3 separate regions of the Homo sapiens genome follow, and all the other regions are linked to region 1. The links come from fine-mapping of genetic effects on gene expression. A gene starts in region 1. Each other region holds a variant in brackets. All regions are shown on one strand. Distances are from middle to middle. Region 1 holds the start of USP34-DT (USP34 divergent transcript). Region 2 overlaps USP34 (ubiquitin specific peptidase 34). Region 3 overlaps USP34 (ubiquitin specific peptidase 34).

Evidence for each region.
Region 2: its variant is fine-mapped to the expression of USP34-DT in whole blood (INTERVAL, PIP above 0.99).
Region 3: its variant is fine-mapped to the expression of USP34-DT in whole blood (TOPMed, PIP above 0.99). The same link has a PIP of 0.9 or more in lung.

Annotation. Positions count from the first base shown.
Region 1 is chr2:61,466,644-61,474,824 of GRCh38, forward strand. It overlaps USP34-DT (USP34 divergent transcript), which reads left to right and starts at 4,453. Exons shown (of 3, transcript NR_185882.1): 1 at 4,453-4,736. USP34 (ubiquitin specific peptidase 34) reads right to left here and starts at 4,444. Exons shown (of 80, transcript NM_014709.4): 1 at 4,007-4,444. The coding sequence starts at 4,049. RefSeq lists an enhancer at 223-722 and silencers at 3,766-4,185, 4,276-4,355, 4,386-4,695.
Region 2 is chr2:61,398,667-61,406,847 of GRCh38, forward strand. USP34 (ubiquitin specific peptidase 34) reads right to left here. Exons shown (of 80, transcript NM_014709.4): 3 at 7,042-7,462. Among named protein-coding and RNA genes, the nearest start is that of SNORA70B, 15 kb to the right of the region's middle. The variant A/G (reference allele first, on the strand shown) is at 4,120.
Region 3 is chr2:61,380,082-61,388,262 of GRCh38, forward strand. It overlaps USP34 (ubiquitin specific peptidase 34), which reads right to left. Exons shown (of 80, transcript NM_014709.4): 6 at 3,188-3,255; 7 at 88-280. Among named protein-coding and RNA genes, the nearest start is that of SNORA70B, 33 kb to the right of the region's middle. RefSeq lists an enhancer at 666-1,167 and a silencer at 759-959. The variant G/A (reference allele first, on the strand shown) is at 4,375.

The sequences.
Region 1 (8,181 bases):
GCTCACTCCTGTAATTGCAGCACTTTGGGAGGTACAGGCAGGCAGATCCCCTGAGGTCAGGAGTTTGAGACAAGCCTGGCCAACATGGCAAAATCCCACCTCTACTAAAAATACAAAAATTAGCCAGGCAAGGAGGCGGGTGCCTGTAGTCTCAGTTACTCAGGAGGCTGAGGCAGAAGAATCACTTGAATCCGGGAGGTGGAGGTTGCAGCTAGCCGACACTGCATTCCAGCCTGGGTGAGAGTTAGACTCCGTGTCAAAAAAAAAAAAAAAAATTTATTACACTCGTTTGCCCAGGTAGCCTTCTCTAAGTGTGATCACTGTTTGTTAATTTCACAAGAAACAGTGTTTTTGGTTTGTTTTTTCAAGACAGCAGTCTTGGCCAGGCGCGGTGGCTCACGCCTGTAATCCTAGCATTTTGGGAGACGGAAGCGGGTAGATCACACGGTAAGGAGTTCAGACCAGCCTGGCCAATATGGTGAAACCCCGTTTCTACTAAAAATACAAAAATTAGCTGGGCATGGTGACGTGTGCCTGTAATCCCAGCCACTTGGGAGGCTGAGGCAGGAGAATTGCTGAACCCAGGGAGGCAGAGGTTGTAGTGAGCCGAAACCGTGCCACTGCACTCCAGCCTGGGTGACACAGCGAGATTCTGTCTCCAAATAAAAAATAAAAAAATAATAATAATAAAAAAAGCAGTCTTACTATGTTGCCCACGCTGGTCTCGAACTCCTGGCCTCAAACAATCCTCCTGCCTCAGCCTCCTGCCGAGGCGGGATTACAGGGGCGCACCACCACGTCTGACTGTTTTGTGAGGTTGCTTTAATACTAATTACGTATTTTTCAGCATGACCTGGAAACACACCACCCAAAAATATGCACAATTTTATTGCTTCTCTCAGCTGGCTAAACTGTTACAGGGTGTCGTATTTAAAGATGAATTCTGAGCACATTTTGGGAGGACTGTAACTTTGTTTTTTTTTTTTTTTTTTTTGAGATGGAGTCTTGTTCTGTGGCCGAGGCTGGAGTGCAGTGGCATGATCTCGGCTCACTGCAACCTCCGCCTACCAGGGTTCAAGCAATTCTCCTGCCTCAGCCTCCCAAGTAGCTGGGACTACAGATGCCTACACCACCACACCCGGCTAATTGGTGAATTTTTAGTAGAGATGGGGTTTCACCATATTGGCCAGGCTGGTCTCGAGCTCCTGACCTTGTGATCCGCCCACCTCGGCCTCCCAAAGTGTTGGGAATACAGGCGTGAGCTGTATTCAGAGTTGCCCGGCCAACTCTGAATTTCTAAATCAACGTTGAACTGATGCTCATCTTTGTACAAGGTACAGGCGGGAAAAGGGCAGACTTTATAGGTAATTACTGCAAATGAGATCACAAGAAACACATATAATCTACTTCAACAAGTTTTATCAAGCTCCAACCACTCATGTTCATTATCATGCTCCATCATAGCCACGGATAAGCAAAGAACTACAGAAAAAAAAACAACTTTTAATAGTGTGGTATAAACTACACATGTAATTGTTGAAGTAAAAAAAATGTTTTTTGAGACAAAGTTTCGCTCTTGTTGCCCAGGCTGGAGTGCAATGGCACAATCTCGGCTCACTGCAACCTCCGCCTCCGGGTTCAAGCAATTCTCCTGGTCAGCCTCCCCAGTAGCTGGGATTACAAGCATGTGCCACCACGCTCAGCTAATTTTGTATTTTGAGTAGAGACGGGGTTTCTCCATGTTAGTCAGGCTGGTCTTGAACTCCCAACCTCAGGTGATCCGCCAACCTTGGCCTCGCAAAGTGTTGGGATTACAGGCGTGAGCCACTGCGCCTGGCCGTAAATTTTTTTAAAAAGGAAGCATCACTGTGAGATTATTGTTTAAGAGTTAAACTTTTAAATTGAGCCTCAAAGGCAATATTAAGAAACTAAGTATTTTTAGAGTCCACTGGCTTACACACAAATAGAAAATCCTTACTTGTTCATTAGAACAGGTTTCTTAGAGGGTGCACATGACCAGATTTTGAGAAGCTGGTTGAACTAACTGTATTTGCTTAAAGGTAATAAAAGCTAAATTCTATTTCAATTCTCCACATTTCTAACACTCCATAAATGCACTGCATTTTTCAGTGCTTCTAACCAAAGTTCTAGGGGTTTCCCAGATAATCTTAAATAAGACCTTTCATTATGATCAAGATGCCACCTCTTTTCAAAAGATAAACCAACTTTACTTTCTTTAGATGTTTTGTTTAAAATTTTCCAAGTTTAAGATATTTTAAAATCAGCCAGGCGCAGTGGCTCACGCCTGTAATCCCAGCACTTTGGGAGGCCGAGGCAGGCGGATCACAAGGTCAGGAGCTCAAGACCAGCCTGACCAACATGGTGAAACCCCGTCTCTACCAAAAATACAAAAATCAGCCGGGCATGGTGTGGGGAACCTACATTTCCAGCTACTTGGGAGGCTGAGGCAGGAGAATCGCTTGAACCTGGGAGGCAGAGTTTGCAGTGAGCCGAGATCATGCCATTGCCCTCCAGCTTGGGCAACAAGAGCAAAACTCTGTCTCAAGAAAAAAAAAAGATATTTAAAATCACCAACAAAATTAAGTACTTGTTCCTCATATTACATTGCAAAACGATTAACTTTCCAAGTTGAGCGTAACAATCATAATCACACGACTTGTATGTGAGATATAAAACACAGTAAGTATTGAGGATTTAAGTTTATCATATCGTAAACCGCCTGCGCCAGAAATAAAAGTATCTCAAAATACACACAAATAATCTTAAAATTCTAGGATAATTTAGGGTGACACAAATACTGGAACCTCTAGTTGGAATATGTGCAAAAGCCTATTCCACCTATCAGGAAGTAAATACGGAGTTGAAATTAAGTTAGAACCCTTCCACTTTTATTATTGTCTTTGGTCATTAAAGTGACAGTCAAACACAAATACCATGGTACATTTTATAAATCAACTGTTTTAGCGAATTGTATTACAAAATTAGATAGTCTGAAAGTCTGTGGAAATATCACAAACAGAATACAAATCCAAAACCCACATAAACTGTTCATAAGTGAGCATTTTTTCAACAATCAACTTTTTGTAAATTGATCCCTTCATCTAATTCACCTCTGCCAACTAGGCCTTTACGCCCAGAAGTAGTTGATTTGCAATATATCTTCTATAAGCTGAAATACCATCTTGCAAGGGTCGAGAATAAAATAAAAAGGCCAGAAAAGATCAACGTACCCTTTTTAATAATAAAAAGTAAAGTACCAGGTAAAAGGCCTTTCCTTCCAAGAGAGATAGGCCATAACTATCCCGGGATGGTATGTGTAGTACAGTGCTCTGCTTAACAGAATGTACCATTAAAGCGGTGAATGCTACACTAAGAAACATCATTAACAAATTTATTTTAAAAATAGGTATGAAGGTTCCAATCATCACTATCACAGTTCGTTTTCAGCTATTTAAGGTCTGGCTGAAGTGTTTAAGACACCCACAAACCCGCAAGGGAGGGAAAAACCACCACCCTGCTCCCGGGAGTTTAATGAAAATTAGCAGGTAAGAGAGGCCTCGGCAGCACGCTGGAAATCAAAGAGGGCGGCCGGAGGATTTGGACTGCGGAGGAAAGCCTCGTCCTCCGACCCCACCTCCCCGCACCTTCCCGGCAGGGCGAAGGAGGCGAAGGCGGCGAGGGGTTCATTACTGCCTTCATTAATTGACACCTGTAATGAGGAAACTTTCCGAGAGCCCAGAGCGCCCGGGCCAGGCCGAGCCGGAGCTCCGCGGCGGCCGCCTCTCGGGCGCCCAGGTAACCCGGCCGGGCTGGGCCCGAGGCGCCGCGGCGGCCGCGCCACCGCGCACCTTCCCGGGGCGCTAGGCCCGCACGCCGCCCGGCCCGGCCGTCGCCTCCCGCAGGCCGCGGCAGCCCGGGGAGGCCAGAGAGCTGCGCGAGGACCCCAAACCGTGCACCCCGACAGGCCGCTACCGCGGCTACTTACTTTCATTTAACACCTCCACCAGGTCTGCGCAGTTCTCGCACATCGTTCGGCCGCCGCCCCCCCCCTCCCCCGCTTCGGATCACACTGACTGATCCCGACCGGCGGGGGGGAGGGGAGAGAGGCGGAGGAGGGGGCCGGCCGGCCGGCGGGGCGGGGAGGCGACTAGGGCGGGCGGCGGCGGGGACGGGGCGGGGAGCAAGAGAATGGGGGAGGGGGCCGGCGGTCCCCGCAGCGGGAGGGGGAGAGGAGGGGAGCGAGGGGAGGTGCGCAGGCCGGAGGGGCGCCGAGGCGCCGGCGGCGGGGAAGGGGGGGAAGGACGGGGGGAGGGGAGAGGGGGGGAGGGGGCGGGTGGGGAGAGAAGCAGCAGAGTCACTTCACCGACCAGACGCCGCGGCCACCGCCGACGCCGCCGCCATTTTAACAGAGCGCTCGGGCTGCGCTCGGCTCTTTCCGCCCGGGCTTAGGAGCGGACGAGAGGCGCCTCGCGCTCTCATTCCTCCGCCTCCCTCCCTTTCTCGCCTCTCCTCCGCCCCCCACCTCTCCCTCCGCACACACGCCGCACGCTCCACACCCCGCCGTGGCCGGCTCGCCGCCCTCCCTTTCCTCTTCCGTCCGGCCTCCCCGCCCTCGGTCCACCCCCTCCGCGCGCTCGCCCACCCCGCCCAGCCCGGATCTCTGTCAGCGGCCGGAAGGGAAACGCGAAGCCAGCGCGGCCGCGGGGGGAGTCCGGGTGAGTAGGAGAAGATGGCGGAGGCAACGGACGGGTCGCGGTTGCGTGGCGTCGCCCACCACGACCCACTCCACGGGCTCTGAGGCCCGGGGAGCGCCAGGTCACTCGCTCCGTCCTGTCCCCCGCCCCTGGGCTTCGCCATTTTTCCCCAGGGCCTGGGTCGGGGAGTTGGTGCGGGTTTCTTTGGTGTCCCCGGCCTCTTCCGCGCTTAGGCTTTTGGGGTACGGGAAGCAAGGAGTCAACTTGGGTGCCGGGCCGGGTCTACGCCGTAGCCCTCTTTCGGGCGCAAGGGCCACTCCCCCCGGGGTCTGAGAGTGAATCAGCCCAGGGCCCGGCTTAACTGCATCGGTGATTATCGCTACCCTGCAGTTCCTTGAAGGTCCTCCGTCCTGGAGCAGTAAGATCCTTGACGTAACTAGAAATGGCAGGGTAAGGAGTGTTTGCCTGACATCGTCTCGTTTTTACGGAAGAGGGCCCCTCACGATGTGCCCATCAGCCCCACCTGAAATAGCAAGAAATCTTCTTCAGCAGAGAGCGAATAACAAGGATATTAAGATAAAGAACAGGTGAAGGGGGCAGTCAGCTGAAGCTTGTAAGGGAATTTTCCTCACGCCGGCACTTACCCCTTGCTTGCTAATTTTTGTGTTCAACGTGTTTACATAGACATGTGACTGCAAAGTCCGAAAGATCGTGTACAGAATCTCTGAACGGTAACCAGAGTGTCTGTCAAGGCTCTGTAGTCATTCTCTCGATAGCTTTTGTGGAGGTTATGGCACGCCCATCTCTCCATGCCAGAACCACCTGGTTCCAAATGCTTTGCCTTTCTGCTGCTTGAAGTTGATACTATAAACAGTCTGCCCAACCCGTTTTGTTTCCCACTAGCAGGTGATCCTTAGGATTGTAGTTCTATTCTACCATCATCTTCCCTTCTTCCTTGTCTTTCTCACAGAATTGGGTTTTTGCAGACTTACTTTGGATCCTGAGGCAGACATTCGTTGTCCACTCAACATACATTCCCACGTATCCCTTTTTTCCCTGCCAACACAACCCCAATTATTTTTATTTGAATTTTTTTTTTTTGAGACAAAGTCTCACTCTGTCGCCAAGGTTAGAGTGCAGTGGTGCGATCACAGTTCACTACAGCCTCCACTTTATGGGCTCAAGGGATCCTCCCACTTCCCTAGTAGCTGGGGCTACAGGCGCTCTCCACCACACGTAACTAATTGTTTTTTATTTTTAGTAGGGACAGGGTCTTGCTATGTTACCCAGGCTGGTCTCAAACTCCTGGCCTCAACTGATCCTCCGGCCCAAAATGTTAGGATTACAGGTATGAGCCAACGTGCTGGTCTCACGTTTTTTCAGGTAGCAGTTGAAACCAACCATCATGGTGATCTGGCTTTTCTAGGGCTGGCCATACATAATTGAGTTCCTCCTGATAAAAGGTAAGCAACAATCCTGAGAAACATAGTGGGAGCCCTGTGTCTACAAAAATTTAAAAGGTGGCTGGGCGCGTTGGCTCACTCCTGAAATCCCGCACTTAGGGAGGCTGAGGTGAGCAAATCACCTGAGGTCGGGAGCTCTAGACCGGCCTGACCAACATGGACAAAGCTCATCTCTGCTAAAAATACAAAATTAGGCATGGTGGTGCATGCCTGTAATCCCAGCTACTCAGGAGGCTGAGGCAGGAGAATCGCTTGAACCCGGGAGGCAGGGGTTGCGGTGAGCCGAGATCGCGCCATTGCACTCCAGCCTGGGATAAGAGTGAAACTCCGTCTCATAAAAAAAAAAAAAAAAAAAGGCCAGGCATGGTGGTTCATGCCTGTAATCCCAGCGCTTTGGGAGGCCGAGGCGAGAAGATCACTAAATCAGGAGATTGAGACCATCCTGGCTAACACGGTGAAACCCCGTCTCTACTAAAAATACAAAAAATTAGCCAGGCATGGTGGTGGGCGCCTGTAGTCCCAGCTACTTGGGAGGCTGAGGCAGGAGAATGGCATGAACCCAGGGAGCAAAGCTTGCAGTGAGCTGAGATCGCGCCACTGCACTCCAGCCTGGGCGACACAGCAAGACTCCGTCTCAAAAAAAAAAAAAAAAAATTACCTGGTCGTGGTGGCTCACGACTATAATCATAGTACTTTGAGAGTCCAAGGCAGATGGATTGCTTGAGCCTGGGAGTTCTACATCAACCTGGGCAACATGGCAAAAGTCCATCTCCAGTACATAAGAAAATTAGTGGAATGTGGTGGTGCACACCTGTAATCCCAGCTACTGGGGAGGCTGAGGTGGGAGGATCACTAGAGCCCAGGAGATTGAGACTGCAGTGAGCTGTGGTCATACCACTGCAGTCTAGCCTGGGTGACAGAGTGAGACCCTCTCTGGAAAAAAAAAGAAATGTAAGCAGAAATCTGCAGGATGGGTTCTTTGGGAAGAATTCCCAAAAGAATTCCTAATACGATGAGGGACAAATTCAGCTAACATACCATTTAACCCTTTCTGCCTGAAACATGGTCTTGATGCACAAAGTAATACCCATCTTGTAATTTTTTTAACAATGAAAACTTTTACCCCATTTGCGATTTCATTGTTTAAAAAATTTGATTAAACAGGCCGGGCACAGTGGCTCACGCCTGTAATCCCAACACTTTGGGAGGCTGAGGCAGGTGGATCACCTGAGGTCAGAGTTCAAGACCAGCCTTACCTACATGCTGAAACCCCATCTCTTCTAAAAATATAAAAAATGAGCCGGGTGTGGTGGCGGGCACTTTGTAATCCCAGCTACTCGGGAGGCTGAGGCTGGAGAATTGCTTGAACCCGGGGGTGGAGGTTGCAGTGAGCCGAGATTCTGCCATTGCACTCCAGCCTGGGCAACAAGAGCAAAAAAAATTCCATCTCGAAAAAAAATGATAAAACAGAATCATAAAGTGTGGATCCCTGATGCATCTTTGAACAACAGTCTATGCTCAGACTGCTTATGTGAGAAAAATAAAATGTATTTTTCTTGGCTGGGCATGGTGGCCTACACCTGTATTCCCAGAACTTTGAGAGGCTAAGGAGGGCAGATCACTTGAGGACAGGAGTTAGAGACCGGCCTGGCCAACGTAATGAAACCCATCTCTACTAAAAATACAAAAATTAGGCTGGGCGCAATGGCTCACGCCTGTACTCCCAGCACTTTGGGAGGGGGAGGTGGGCAGAACACAAGGTCAGGAGTTCAAGACCAGCCTGGCCAACGTAGTGAAGCCTCGTCTCTACTAAAAATACAAAAATTAGCCGGGTTTGATGGCGCATGCCTATAGTCCCAACTACTTGGGAGGCTGAGGCAAGAGAATTGCTTGAACCCAGGAGGCAGAAGTTGCAGTGAGCCAAGATCGCACCAGTGCACTCCAGCCTCGGCGACAGAGCAAGACTCCGTCTCAAAAAAAAAAAAAAGCCGGTTGTGGTGGAG
Region 2 (8,181 bases), 68 kb before region 1:
AGAAACTTTCATCTGAAAAAAGCTACCAAAGAAACCCATTCATCATTGCCATCACCTATTTTAGATATTTAAGTTACACTGCTGAAATAAAGTCTGAAAATCATGGATTGAAAGCAATCATACAGAACTCAGAACATTTCAAAATAAACAAAAAATGTCCTTAGAGAAATGAAGTCTCAAAGTAAGTGTTAAACCTCCTAAATCCACTCCTGGCTATGACAACCGGGGCCAGAGGTGAAGCTTTATGTTAATCTCAACGAACTTTTTCATGGTCTTCAAAAAGTCCAGAATTTAAGACCTCCTGTGGTATTGTTAAATACAGAATCATGGACCAGGTGAACCATGCTAGAATCTTAGAGCCACGATTTCTAGTGCCTAACATGGGCACAGCTAAAAAATCTCCTAACGGCCGGTGCAGTGGCTCATGCCTGTAATCCCAACACTTTGAGAGGCCTAGGTAGGTGGATCACGAGGTCAGGAGTTCAAGACCAGCCTAACATGGTCTCTACTAAAACTACAAAAATTAGCTGGGTGTCGTGACGCATGCCTGTAATCCCAGCTACTCAGGAGGTTTCAGCCTCCTGAGAATTGCTTGAATCCCGGAAGGCGAAGGTTGCAGTGAGCTGTTATCATGCCACCGCACTCCAGCCTGGGCAACAGGATCAAAACTCCGTCTCAAAAAAAAAAAAAAAAATTGAGTTCTATCCTGGTATGCAGTGTTACTCAGATTTGATTACATCTATTTTGGTGATTCAGGGGAACTGTTTTGCCACTCTATTTCCAATATGAATACATAAAGCTAGCATCCTAAAATGTTATAATCTCATTTTTTAAGTAGTATATAAAAAATTAACACACATCTATAGGTTAAAAAAAACACTAAGAACAACACTAGGAAGTCTCATTAAAAGACGAATTAACGGTCCCGGGCGCGGTGGCTCATGCCTGTAATTCCCAGCACTTTGGGAGGCTGAGGCAGACGGATCACGAGGCCAAGAGTTGGAGATCACCCTGTCCAACACAGTGAAACCTCGTCTCTACTAAAAACACAAAAAAATTAGCCAGGCGTGGTGGCGGGCGCCTGTAATCCCAACTACTCGGGACGCTGAGGCCGGTGAATCGCTTGAACCTGAGAGGCAGAGGTTGCAGTGAGCCGAGATAACACCACTGCACTCCAGCCTCGGCAACAGTGCGAGACACTGTCTCCCAAAAAAAAAAAAAAAAAGCTGTATTAACAGTATTTTTCAAAAGTTCTTATTTTAGGTAATCGCTGAGAAAGGCTTTAATAAACTTATCAATGATTTTTAAAGTCTTGCATTTTTTTTCCTCAAAAACCTCCCATTTACTACATGAGTTGATCCCATCCTATTTATAGCAGAGAAATTTGGTTATTTTAAAAGAGAAAACAGAGAGAAATAAATGAGTAACTATACAGGAAAGGCAATTTTTTTTTTTTTTTTGGAGATGGAGTCGCATTCTGTTGCCCAGGCTGGAGTGCAGCGGCACCATCCCGGCTCATTACAAGCTCCGCCTCCCGGGTTCACGCCATTCTCCCGCCTCAGCCTCCCCAGTAGCTGGGACTACAGGCACCCGCCACCACGCTTGGCTAATTTTTTCTATTTTTAGTAGAGACAGGGTTTCACTGTGTTAGCCAAGATGGTCTTGATCTCCTGACCTTGTGATCCACCCGCCTCGGCCTCCCAAAGTGCTGGGATTACAGGTGTGAGCCACCGCGCCCGGCCAGAGGAAAGGCAATTCTATGTAAATTAAGAAAATGCTGCTCCATGATCAAACCATGAAGAACTCAATGTCTCAAAATTTTTGCTTAAAAGTAACTCAGTGATGTTGGAATTAGTAGTGATAATTGTACAACGTTGGTATTATTCTAAAAAATACTAAATTGACTGGGCGTGGCAGCTCATCTTATAATCCCAGTACTTTGGGAGGCTGAGGCAGGAAGATTGCCCAAAGCCAGGAGCTCAAAGCCAGCCCAGGAAACAGAGCAAGACCCTGCCTCCTCAAAAAAATTGAAAAACTAGCTAGGCATGGTGGCATGCACCTGTACTCCCAGCTACTTAGGACACTGAAGGTGAAGGGTTACTTGAGTCCAGGAGTTCAAGGCTACAATGAATCATAATTGTGCCAGTGTACTACTCCAGCCTGAGTGACAGAGGAAGACCCTGATTCAAAAATTAAAAAATAAGTCCAGGTGCGGTAGCTTACGCCTGTAATCCCAGCATTTTGGGAGGCCGAGACAGGCAGGTCACAAGATCAAGTGATTGAGACCATCCTGGCCAACATGGTGAAACCCTGTCTCTACTAAAAATACAAAAATTAGCTGGGCATTTTGGGTGCGCGCCTGTAGTCCCAGCTACTTGGGAGGCTAAGGCAGGAGAATCGCCTGAACCCAGGAGGCAGAGGTTGCAGTGAGCCGAGATCGCGCCATTGCACTCTAGCCTGGTGACCAAGCAAGACTCTGTCTCAAAAAAAAAAAAAAAAAAAATTAAAAAATAAAACCTTCATGTATATATTTCATCTGTCTGATTATACCATACGTATATTTAACATAAATGCAGTGGTTTCTCTCCTTTCTACTTTTTTAAAGATAGGGTCCCACTCTGTCATGCAGAGGCATGATCATAACTCACTGCAGCTTTGACCTCCTGGCTCAAGTGATCCTTCTGCCTCAGCCTCCCAAGTAGCTGGGACTACAGGCGTGCACCACTACGCCCAGTTAATTTTTTTTTCTTTTGTAAAGATGAGCTCTTGCTATGTTGCCCAGCCTAGACTTAAACTCCTGGCCTCAAGTGGTCCTCTTGTCTTGGCTTCCAAAAATGCTGGGATTACAGGTGTGAGCCACTGTACCTGGCCCTATTTTTTTTTTTTTTTTTTTTTTTTTTGAGACAGAGTCTCACTCTGTCACCTAGGGTGGAGTGCAGTGGCACGATCTCAGCTCACTGCAAGCTCCGCCTCCTGGGTTCATGCCATTCTCCTTCCTCAGCCTCCAGAGTAGCTGGGACTACAGGCACCCGCTACCACGCCCTGCTAATTTTTTTTTTTTTTTTGTATTTTTAGTAGAGACAGCGTTTTACCGTGTTAGCCAGGATGGTCTCGATATCCTGACCTTGTGATCCACCTGCCTCAGCCTCCAAAAGTGCTGGGATTACAGGCATGAGCCACCGCGCCCGGCCCATTTTTATAATCTTTTTCCCTATACTTAGAAAAAAACTTACAACACTAGAGCAATTATCTGATTTCACAGAATTACACATAATTATTCAGGATAAAAAATGCAACTAGCATGGCAAGGCACTATGGCTCATGCCTGTAATCCCAGCACTTTGGAGGTCAAGGCAGGAGGATCACCTGAGGCCATGAGTTCGAGACCAGGCTGGTCTCGATAAACCCCATAAACACAGATAAACCCCATCTCTTAAAAAAGTAATAATAAAATAAAAATAAACTTAGCCAGGCACTGTAGTGAATGCCTAGTGTCCAAGCTACTCAGGAGGCTGAGGTGGGTGGATCGTTTGAGCCCAGGAATTCAAGGTTATGGTGACCAATGATCACACCACCGCACTCCAGCCTGGGAGACAGAGCAAGACCCTGTCTCTTAAGGGGAAAAAAATTAAAACTAGGCCATTCCCCCTTTTGATCCTGAATTAGTACTACTTATGTCCAATTACCGAACCTTTTAAAATATCAGCTTTGATGGGGACAATAGGAAAGAGAAGAAGGAAGGGAGACAGAAGGAGTGGCTCCAAGTTCCCATATTATTTAGAATACAGTAATTAGTTCAAAATGATTTAGAAGTAGTGCAGTAGAGTAAGACCCGGATTCTAGGACTCTTCTCAGCAATATGCCCAATCAAATCTTTTAACCTCTGTAGGCCAGTTGCTTCTTCTATAAAATAAAAGTGTTGAGTAGGTTTCTAAAGACACAGCTATCAAAATACTAACACATGAGTTTTGAATCTTGTCCTCCTAAGAATTTTGGCTAAGTTGTGCCTCTTTAAAAAATATTAACGAAAAATCAAAATCAAAGGCTTAAGAAAGGATAGCACAGCAGCACAAAGAAAAGACTAGATGGACAATTTCCTCAAAGAAAAGTGGGATAAAA[A/G]TCTCTAGTAAGCTGTATTACATTTCATAATAATTTGTTTGCTTTAAAATAATTGTGTGTATATACATACAAAATTTATACATATATATAATTTTATAACATGTATGCTACCAAGTCTTTGATCTAAGACCATTTGAAACAGTTGACCCTTACCGCATTTAATTAAATGGCCACTGGGATAGAAACTAGAAATTTTAGAGCACTTGTAACAGATCATTATTAAGATAATAGAAACCTCGGAAACAACTATTACGAAAAGAAAATTAAAGAGGCACATATCTAATATATTAATAGAATTTGGTATAAGGAGGTAACTCCTTTATTATCTCTATGGGTATTTTTTGTCAGAATTTTCCTCGAAGACCTCAAAAAACCACTGCTTTCAACCAAGTAGTAACATAAAATACTCACGAATAATAATAACAAAGTACTTTAAAACAAAGTACAGGAGTGTAACTATGCCTACATTTAGAGATTACCATTTTTGAAAACAGGAAAGAAAAAACACTGATGAGCAAGTTTATTTTAGAAGCAGCAGACTCAGTATTACTTATATAGTTCTATATCATTAAGAAATTTTTAATTGGAAAAAATTTCTGTGAATTTCACATATCTAAGTCCCTAACGAAACTATTTTCAGCATCTTTCAGTTACCAAGTTAAGATATTAAAGCACTATGTAGATGGTGTTTATGTAGATTAAATATTTCAAGTTTGCCTGATGGGACTTTCTTTTGTTGAAAAAAGATTACTTTTTCAGAATATTTAATATATTTTATATCATGTAAGAGATTATTTAAGTTTCTATACTGGAAGATCACAGGCTAAGATTTTTAGAAAACAGAGCACAATCTGCTTTTAAACACTCTTTCTCCCCCACCCAGAGCAGGAGTGAGTGAAAGTTTATCAAAAAGCTTTAGAGGCTGGGCGCAGCGGCTCACGCCTGTAATCCCAGCACTTTGGGAGGCAGAAGCGGGCGGATCACAAGGCCAGGAGATCGAGACCATCCTGGCTAACAGGGTGAAGCCCCATCTCTACTAAAAAATACAAAGAAAAAAATTAGCCGGGCATGGTGGCGGGCACCTGTACTCCCAGCTACTCAGGAGGCTGAGGCAGGAGAATGACGTGAACCCGGGAGGCGGAGCTTGCAGTGAGCCGAGATCACACCACTGCACTCCAGCCTGGGCGACAGATCAAGACTCTATCTCAAAAAAAAAAAAAAAAAAAAAAAAAAGCTTTAGAACAGTAAGGAAAGAAGGACAGAAAGTACAACTTGGAAGAGGGCCAAGTAGGTGACTTGTGTGCCTGATTTAAAATATTCTTACGAAGAATTCTAACAGGGAAAATATCTGCCCTCAAGCTATGTTTTCAAATAAGTCTCCATTCGACATGAAAATATCCCAGTAAAGGACTATTATTTCCCAGATGAAGAAAGAGAGGTATAAAGGTTACAGAACAAATAAGCTAGAGAAAAGAGACAGATAAAAAACAAACAAAAAAAATGTCATAGATTCTCTAATGGCCATAATTCTTCATATTCCAGGATGCACAGGAAACAATGTATAAGATATAAAATGAAATTTTACCTCTCCTCCCCCCAGCAATGGAGTCTACTTCACTACCCCTTTGAATCTGGGCTGCCCTTGTGAACCGCTTCAAGTAACAGAAAGCAGCACAATAGAATATGGCAGAATTATACTGTGACATTTCAAAGGCTGTATCATAAGAAGTCTTACAGCTCCTACTTTTGCCTTCCTGGAGCACTGCTAAGACTACTATTTAAGGAAGCCAATCTACCCTAGTGGAAAATAAGCCATGTGGAGAAAATACAAGGAGCCCCAGATAACAGCCACTACCAACTGCCACACACACAAGTGCGACCCAGACCTTACCCATCCAGTTCTCAAAGTAAATTCACCTGCATAACTCAGCCTACACAAAACTAGCTAAGGAACTGCCTGTGAGAATCATGAGGAATAATAAACCACTGTTAAGTCATTAATATATTACCACATAATTGTCTCAATTCCCACTATGCCTAGAAATCAATCATATTATCTGAGTTAAGTCTAAGATAGGTTACTACATACTTAGAAATGCTTGCAAAAACATCACTAATAGAGTCAAGCATCTTAACTTACAAAAGAAAATACTATTACTTAGCCAGGGGTGGTGGCTCACGTCTGTAATCCCAGCACTTTGGGAGGCCGAGGTGGGCAGATCATGAGGTCAGGAGATCGAGACCATCCTGGCTAACACGGTGAAACCCCGTCTCTACTAAAGAAAATTCTTTTTAAACTTAGCCAGGTGTGGTGGCAGGCACCTGTAATCCCAACTACTTGGGAGGCTGAGGCAAGAGAATGGCATGAACCCAGGAGGCGGAGCTTGCAGTGAACCGAGATCACACCACTGCATTCCAGCCTGGGCAACAGAGAGAGACTCCATCTCAAAAAAAAAAAAAAAAAAAAAAAAAGAAAGAAAGAAAGAAAGAAAAGGAAATACTATTATTTGAAACTACTAATCACAGATAATTTGCTAAGCTTTTTTTTCTTGATAAAAGCAAATTCTGATCTGTAGACTGTTTCTAAGAATGAAATTTAAAATTCCATGTGTTTCTTTTCCCTCAACTATTATTTATTAAGAGTCATAAAATAAGCATAGATCTATAGCAGTAAAATGTTTAGATCACTACCAGATTAATTTCTGAGTTCAATGTATAGATCTTTCCTTGATAGGATGAACTATGCCGAGCAAATTTTCAGCACAAACTGCTGAAGAAATGCTCTGGAGAAACATTAAATAATTCTGGTGACAATAATGATTTTCCGCCAGCAGAAAACTGTCTTCATATTTATCAGTAAGAAACAGACTGCGAAGTTAAGACTTGGTATTACTTAAAATTCACACCACCTATTTTACATACCTCAATAGTAGGGTGAGTATTATGCTTGTAAGCAGTATATAAGGGAAACTGAATTTGAAAAATTTTTGCCACACATAGTAAGAGTTTTTCCTTCTCATCTGTACTCCATAAACTAAAAGGATCAGAACTCTTTGAAGATTCCTCCTCAGTCAGATTACAAATTCTTGTAGAGTTTGATTTTTTTTCTATTGATTTTTGTCTTTCTGTACTTCCTTCATTACACTCTCTATCTATATTCAGTGGTTCTTCTGCTTGATTACTCTCATCTTGCCACGTGGAATCTATGTTAATGGTAGTACAATGTTTACAAAGCTGGTCCCGGAGCACTTGAACTTGGGCAATCACTAAGTTAATAAGTGCACACACTACTTGATTAAAAATCTCCAAATGCTTATATTCCTTGAAGCAGCATAGACATTGCCTATAAGAGAAAAAAAATTGAATAAATTAGTAATAAAGCAGCAGCTGTATTTTTTAATAATATAAAAAAACAAGTAAGCAAATACTAAGTTATTTCTAGACTTGTTTTTATTTTTTCCTTCCTGCTGGGGTACACCTTAATAACATAAAGATAGCATCGCAACAACAACTGATATTTTAGTTAGTGTAAAGTCATCATGTTAGGTTTACAGCTATTATCTTCAGTTTTACGTATGGATTTGTCTGTCCTTCTACACATGGAACTATTTAAAAACAAGAATTGTGACATTTTGTTTCTCCAGTGTCAAGTACTCAATATATGTTTAGCAAGTTATTAGGAAACTTATAACAAAATATCTTATTAGTAAAGCCAGCTGGTTATTTAATATAAGGAATTTTGTTGTCAACTAATAAAACAGCCACATTTTTAGATTAATGTCCTTGAAGGCTACTTGGGAGGGGTGCTCTGACGCTATCTGGCAAATCAAAAGTGTTTAGGAACAACACACACACACTCTCTCTTTCTCTCTCTCTCTCCCCCCCAAGCTCCTGTAAAAAAAAATATATGTGTATTTAAAAAAAAAAAAAAAATATTGGCCAGGCGCAGTGGCTCACGCCTGTAATCCCAGCACGTTGGGAGGCTGAGGCAGGTGGATCATTTGAGGTCAGGAGTTCGAAACCAGCCTGACCAACATGGTGAAACCCTGTCTCTACTAAAAA
Region 3 (8,181 bases), 87 kb before region 1:
ATGAAGTGCTCCATAAATAGTGGGTAGTATTATGATAGACCAGAAAACAAATAAACGATGACCAAAAATAAAACAAATACAGCTTACTGTTATCTGACTCAATCCAGCCAACCTCATAGTCAAAGTAGGTGACATAAAGTACTTAAATGCAAGATCTAGGCTTTCTTTATCAAAGCATAATGTTGTATCCAATGGTTCTTTGACTGTGCTCCACATTAAGTCAGCCATGTTACGAGCTGCACTCTGTCGTAACTCCTGATCCGAGAGCTTGCATAAATACCTGAAATGATTCAGAAATAGAAAATACACAAAAATTCATAAAGCATTTTTAAAGACCACTCAGTAACTTAAAATGTACATTGTAAGCATTAACATTTTTTGTGTCCAAAACCCACAAACCTCTGGTTTTCCTCTCAGGCCCTGCCTAATCTCTTTGGCAGATTCCTTCTCTGCTGTCCAACCTTTCAACATTAGTCTTCCTCAAGGCCTGTAATGGATTACAAAATGGCCACAAATTCCTCCCATCATTATATGTACAAGAATTTGCAATGTGACTTTGCTATTCCTCTCATCAAAAGGTGTAATCTATTTCTACACCTTAAATCTGGGCCTTGCCATGTAACTTGCTTTGGCCAATGAGATATTAATAGACATGACATAAGTGGAAGCTAGAAAAGCCTTTGAGCTTGCCTTCTCTTGCTGGGAACTCTAATCACCAACAAAACAAGGAACCAAGGTTAGCCTGCTGGATGAAAGAGAAGTGCCTGATGCTCCAACTGACATGAAGCCAACTACAAGACATATATGAGATTCCCGCTCACCCCACAAGACCAATCGGCATGGCAATCACAGAATGTGGGAACAAGGCTAACCTAGACCATCCAGTTTCAGCCAAGTCAATACAGATCAACAAAACTACCTAGCTAGCATGCTCGTTAAGAGTCATCACCACTCCCTAATCTCAAGTACCCAGGGACACAAACACTGCGGAAGGCTGCAGGATCCTCTGCCTAGGAAAACCAGAGACCTTTGTTCACTTGTTTATCTGCTGACCTTCCCTCCACTATTGTCCTATGACCCTGCCAAATCCCCCTCTGCAAGAAACACCCAAGAATGATCAATAAAAAAAAAAAAAATAAATAAATAAAAAATAAACAAAAAATGTAAAACTAAAAAAAAATAAAACACACACACACACACACACAAAACTACCTAGCTAACCAGAGAACTGTGAGAAATGATAAATGGCTGTTGTTTCATTTTTTCTTTTTTTATAAAACAAAGTCTTGCTTTGTCACTCACGCTGGAGTGCAATTGCTCAATCAGAGCTCACTGCAGCCTCGACCTCCTGGGCTCAAGTGATCCTTCCACCTCAGCTTCCCTGGTAGCTGGGACTATAGAAGCATGCCACCACGACCACCTAATTTTCTTCTGCACAGAGATGGAGTCTCGCTATGTTGCCCAGACTGGTCTTGAACTCCTGGGCTCAGGTGATCCTCCCGCCTCGGCCTCCCAAAAGTGCTGGGATTACAGGCATGAGCCACCATGCCTGGCTGGCTATTGTTGTAAGCCACTAAGTTTTGAGGGATGTTTTCTTACACAGCAAAACCAACCCATACAGAGCTCTATCTTAGACTCACCTCTACTCTTTTCCTGTATGCTCTCCTCAGGTGACTCCTATGGTTTTTAAATACCATCTTTACACTCACAACTCTTACATTAATGAAAACTGTTCTGAACTACAAGTTCATACTCCCAATTTGCCAGTGCCATTTAAGTCCCACAGGCCTCTCAAAGTCTTGTCTTTAAGTTCTCCCAGATTTTCACATCTCAGTAATGATATCCACAGTACAAATAAAAAAAATTGAGGAGGGGGGGTGCTGAATGTCATCCACATCCACAATGCTACCCTTTTCTTTATACCCTATAATGACCAGTATTATTGATTTTATTTTCACTTACATTCATCCAATTTTCAAAATCATCATTAACAATCCTACTGTAAGTAATCATCACTTTCCTTCCAGGACTAATATATAAACCTTTCAATTGGTCTCCTCCTAGCTTCTATTCCAGTCACCCTATATTTATGATCTATTTAAAAGCCAAATAAAACTTTTAAAAAATCATGAAACATCTGCTAAAAACCCTTCAATAGACTCCCATTGAAAAAATTAAATCCATACTCCTTACAGTGGCCTACAAGGTCCTGAATAATCTGCCCCTGCTTATCTCTCCACCTTCAAAACTATATCCCCTTACACATTATTCTCCACACCAATCTGCTTCTAGTTTGTGTCATATGCCAACTTCAAAGCCTATACTGACATGTTCCTTCTACAATACGTCTTTCTAATAATCATTTGAATAGCTGACTCACGTCCATCAGATATCACCCTTCAGAAAGGCCCCATACTCCCTCTGTATCACACTAACTTACTTGCATAGCATTCATCACTATCTGATTCTTTGCCTGATACTGTCTCCCAAAAGTTGAGTAGTGCTGTGAAAAAGGGAACACTCAAACCTTTGCAAATGAGAAAAAAAGTACAATACTGTCATAAATGTTATCAAGAAATAAAATATGCAGAATCCTGACAGTTCATACTTTAATTCTAATCAGTACAACCCTTTCTCCATCTTCTTAGGCTTCCTTTTTAAGTTGAGACTTATAAAATTCAAATGTCACCTCTCGTTCAATGAGACCTTTCCTGTCCCCATAAACTGTAACCCACCCCCTAGAACTCTCAAGCCACCTTTGCTGCTATTTATCCTATAATACTTATCACTTTCTGATGTAGTATTATCATTTACTTCTTTTGTAAACAGACTGCACAAGAGCAGAGATTTTTGCAATTTGTTTTCTTCTCTGCTATATCCTCAGTGCCTAGAACGTAACAGACACTTACTGTGTATTTGCTGACTAAATACAGTGGAATAACCATTATTAATCTCTTTAATTCTTTACATACTCATGTAAAAAAAAGTCCAACATAATTTACTAAAAAGTAACCATTAAATATAAATCCATATATGTGCATAAAAAACACTATATACCAAACTGTTACTTGAAATTTTCTCTAGAGGATATGACTATAGGGGACTTTCAAACAATATAATTCTATATTATAAATTGTTTAAATATATTACACTGATAATCGGGGGTAAAGAAATTTTATAAACTTACCTAATAACATAGGTCCTAAAAGGTATAATGTGCTGCATGACAGCGGGAATATGTAGCCATATTCTAATCTATATAAGAAACATAAAAACAACATTAATGCCTAATATGTGAAATACATATATCTTTCACTAAACTAATGAAAAACAAGAGCATTGGCCAGGCACGGTCGCTCACGCCTGTAATCCCAGCACTTTGGGAGGCTGAGGTGGGCAGATCCGAAGGTCAGGAGTTTGAGATCAGCCTGGCCAACACAGTAAAACCCCGTATCTACTAAAAACACAAAAATTAGCCGGGCATGGTGGCGCGCACCTGTAGTCCCAGCTACTTGAGAGGCTGAGGCAGGAGAATCGCTTGAACCCCCACCCCCGGGGGGGGCGGGGGGAAGAGGATGTGGTGAGCCGAGATTGTGCCACTGCACTCCAGCCTGGGCAACGGAGCGAGACTCCGTCTCAAATAAAAAACAAAACAAAAACGAGGATCATTTAGTATTCTGCTGCCTCTATAATTACATATATTATCAATTATGAAAAGAGTATAGTACAAAACAGAATTACACATGTATCAGGAAATTTAACCTATATATTATATATCTTATTTTACATGAAGTCTGTCTGAAAAATTAATCTTAGCTTCTTGCTGAAAAGACAAAACCATCTCTCAAAGTAATATTTCCTTACCAAATAATTCTCTATACCTCTTTGTACGGTAGCATCCCCAATACAAGGCACTGTATTAGTTTTTTAATAAACCGTATTAGTTTTTAACTAATCATCTCATCATTCCTTCCTAAAATATTTCAAATTACCCATAATTTCTAGTCATTTCAGTATCTGAAGCAAATATATTTTACAGTCACACACTGATTACAATATCAACAAGTACTTACTAAGTTTACTATAAGTAACTTACAGCTCGACTGAGTTATAATAAAAGTTACAATAAATATATTTCCTCATTTTTTCTACACAATATTTTAACATTTATAAATCAAATGTGAATACATTATATAACAGTTTTATTTTCAAAAATAGTAAGAATAAAAATCCTAACCCAACCAATCAAACAAAAAACTCTGATACTGAGTCTTGACACAGGCAGGAGATACAAATTAAAAAATCTGGACAGGCGCGGTGGCTCATGCCTATAATCCCAGCACTCTGGGAGATCGTGGCAGGTGGATCACTTGA[G/A]GTCAGGAGTTCAAGACCAGCCTGGGCAACATGGCTGAAACCCCATCTCTACCAAAAAAATACAAAAATAAGCCAGGCATGGTGTCACATGTCTGCAGTCCCAGCACTCTGGGAGGTTGAGGTGGGAGATTCGCTTGAACCCAGGAGGTGGAAGTCTCAGTGAGCCAGGATCGCGTCACTGTACTCCACCCTGGACAACACAGCAAGACCATGTCTCAAAACAAAAAAAATTAAAAAATAAAATACATGAATTTGGGAATTCAGAATGTAGGGATTCACTATAATCAAATAAAAGACGTCTATAAAAACCCTGTAGTAAATACTACGTTAATGATGAAATGTTAAAAACTTTGCCTCCTGAGACTAGGAACAAGACAAGGAAGCCTCAATTCCACTTGAACTGAAGGACCTAGACAATATAAGTTAAGAAACTAAATAAAAGGCAAAGGACTAGAAAGAAGAATTTAAAATAATACTCTGAGATAATATAATTATATAATTAGGAAACCCAAAATAATTATCAGATAAACACTGAAACTAAAGAGTTTAGCAAAACTGCTGCTAGGTTAATATAAACAAATATGCACACACCTATCTATACATACACACAACACCCTATATATGTTCTTTTCTTATTATTTGTTCCTGAGAACAAATAATACAGTTTTCAAAACGATTCCCTTAAGAACAGTATCAAAAATATCATGTGTCTAGGAGTAATCTAACAAGATACACACCTCTACATAAAAAGTTGGAAAATAATCAATTAAACAACATGTAAATAAGGAGACATTTGCCATATTTATTGTGAAGATAATAGTTCTCCCGAAATTCATCTATAGATTCAGTACAATCCAAAAAGGTTTACATGCAGAACTTATGAAACTCATTCAAAGCACAAAGGTCCAAGAATAGCTAAAACTCTCTAAGAAATACGACAAGGAGGCCAGGCGCGGTGGCTCACATCTCACTTTGGGAGGCCGAGGCGGGCGGATCACGAGGTCAGGAGATCGAGACCATCCTGGCTAACATGGTGAAACCCCATCTCTACTAAAAATACAAAAAACTTAGCCGGACGTGGTGGCGGGCGCCTGTAGTCCCAGCTACTTGGGAGGCTGAGGCAGGAGAATGGCGTGAACCTGGGAGGCGGAGCTTGCAGTGAGCCAAGATCATGCCACTGCACTCCAGCCTGGGCAACAAAGCAAGACTCTGTCTCAAAAAAAAAAAAAAAAAAAAAAAGAAATACGACAAGGAGAAGCTGGGTGCAGTGACTCAGGCCTGTAATCCTAGCACTTCAGGAGGCCGAGGTGGGCAGATCACCTGAGGTCAGGAGTTCAAGACCAGCTTGGCCAACATGGTGAAACTGTTTCTACTGAAAACACAAAAACAAATGAGCCAGGTGTGGTGACGCGCACCTGTAATCCCAGCTACTTGGGATGCTGAGACAGGAGAATCACTTGAACCCCAGGAGGTGGAGGTTGCAGTAAGCTGAGATCGTCCCACTGCACTCCAGCCTAGGTGACAAAGTGAGACTCTGTCTCCAAAAAAAAAAAAAAAAAGAAATATGACAGGGAGGTAGTACTTGCTTTCCCAGAGAGCAAGACTTCTTGTAAAGCTTCAGTAATTAAGTCAGTAGGCAAAACAGCACAAAATTAGGCAAATAGAATGGTATACTATGCCAAAGAGCCCAAACCCATGCACATAAAAACATCCGATTTGGCTCATTGTAGTGATGAGGCATGAGTCACCTGTAACCAATACTTTTGGAGGCCAAGATGGAAGGATCACTTCAGGCCACTTCAGGCCAGGAGTTCAACACTAACCTGTGCAACAAAAGTAGAACTACAGAACAAAGAAGAAATGACTGTCTTTGTGACAGTGTTAGGAACACTGGATATCTGTATGAAAAAGAAAATGAATCTTAATCCCTCCTGAAACTATAAATAAAAATGTATTGCAGTTGAATAGATCAAAATATGAAAGGTAAAGCAATAATACTTGTTTCCTGATCAAGGTAAGCAAGAAAAAATTTTTCAAAAAAAACAACAACTTTGGCCGGGCACGGTGGCTCACACCTGTAATCCCAGCACTTTGGGGAGCCGAGGCAGATGGATCACAAGCTCAGGAGATCGAGACCATCCTGGCCAACATGGTGAAACCCCATCTATACTAAAAATACAAAAAATTAGCTGGGCGTGGTGGCAAGTGCCTGCAGTCTCGGCTACTTAGGAGACTGAGGCAGGAGAATCGCTTGAACCCAGGAGGTGGATGTTGCAGTGAGCTGAGATCAAGCCACTGCACTCCAGCCTGGCAACAGAGCGAGACTCCATCTAAAAAGAAACAAACAAAAAAAACTTTGTAAGTATCTTCATGGCCTTAGAGTTAAAAATGACTTTTTCAACCAAAAATGAAAACCTTAACCATAAAGAAAAATGACAAACTGTACAACATGAAGCTTGATGAATAATATTTCTTCAACACAACAGTGAAAAGCAACACGAGAGTGGAAGATATTGGCAATACATATATCAAACAAAACACTTCTACCTAAAAAGACGTCTATCTAAAACACACAAGGAAATTCTAAACATCAGCAAGAAAAAGACAATCCAATTTTGCAAATGGGCGAGAGATTTAAACAGGTACTTCGCAAAAAAAATCCAAATAAGTAATATGCCTATGAAAAGGTGCTGATTCTCATTAGTCGTTAGAAATATATAACAGGCCAGGTGCAGTGGCTCACCCCTGTAATCAAAGCACTTTGGGAGGCTGAGGCAGTCAGATCACTTTGAGGTCAGGAGTTCGAGACCAAGCTGGCCAAACATAGTGAAATCCCATCTCTACTAAAAGTACAAAAAATTTAGCCAGGCTTGGTAGTAGGTTCCTGCAATCCCAGCTACTTGGAAAGCTGAGGCAGGAGAATCGCTTGAACCCAGGAGGTGGAGACTGCAGTGAGCCAAGATCGCACCACTGCACTACATCCTGGGCAACAGAGCAAGACTCTATCTCAAAAAAACAACAACAAAAGTGTGTGTGTGAGTGTATATATATGTATGTATGTATATATATTTATATATACACACATATATAAAATATATATATTTATATATACACACATATATAAAATATATATATTTATATATACACACATATATAAAATATATATTTTTACATATACACACATATATAAAAATATATATTTTACATATGCACACATGTAAAAATATATTTTTACATATACACACATGTAAAAATATATTTTTACGTATACACACATGTAAAAATATATTTTTACGTATACACACATGTAAAATATATTTTTACGTATACACACATGTAAAAATATATTTTACGTATACACACATGTAAAAATATATTTTTACGTATACACACATGTAAAAATATATATTTTTACGTATACGCATATGTAAAAATATATTTTTATATATAAGCATATGTAAAAATATATTTATACACACACACACACACACACACACACACACATATATATATATAAATATAAAAAAAAGGCCAGGTGGAGTGGCTCATGCCTGTAATCCCAGGACTTTGGAAGGCCAAGGATGGAGGATGCTTGAGCTCAGGAGTTTGAGATCAGCCAGGACAATATGGCAAAACCCCACATCTGCTTAGCGGGGCATGGTGGCACACACCAGCTATGCAAGAGGCTGAGGTGGGAAGATCGCCTGAGCCCAGGAAGTGGAGGTTGCAACGAATTGAGATCACCCCAATGCGCTCTGGCCTGGGTGACAAGAGTAAGACACTGTCTCAAAAAATAATAAAATCACA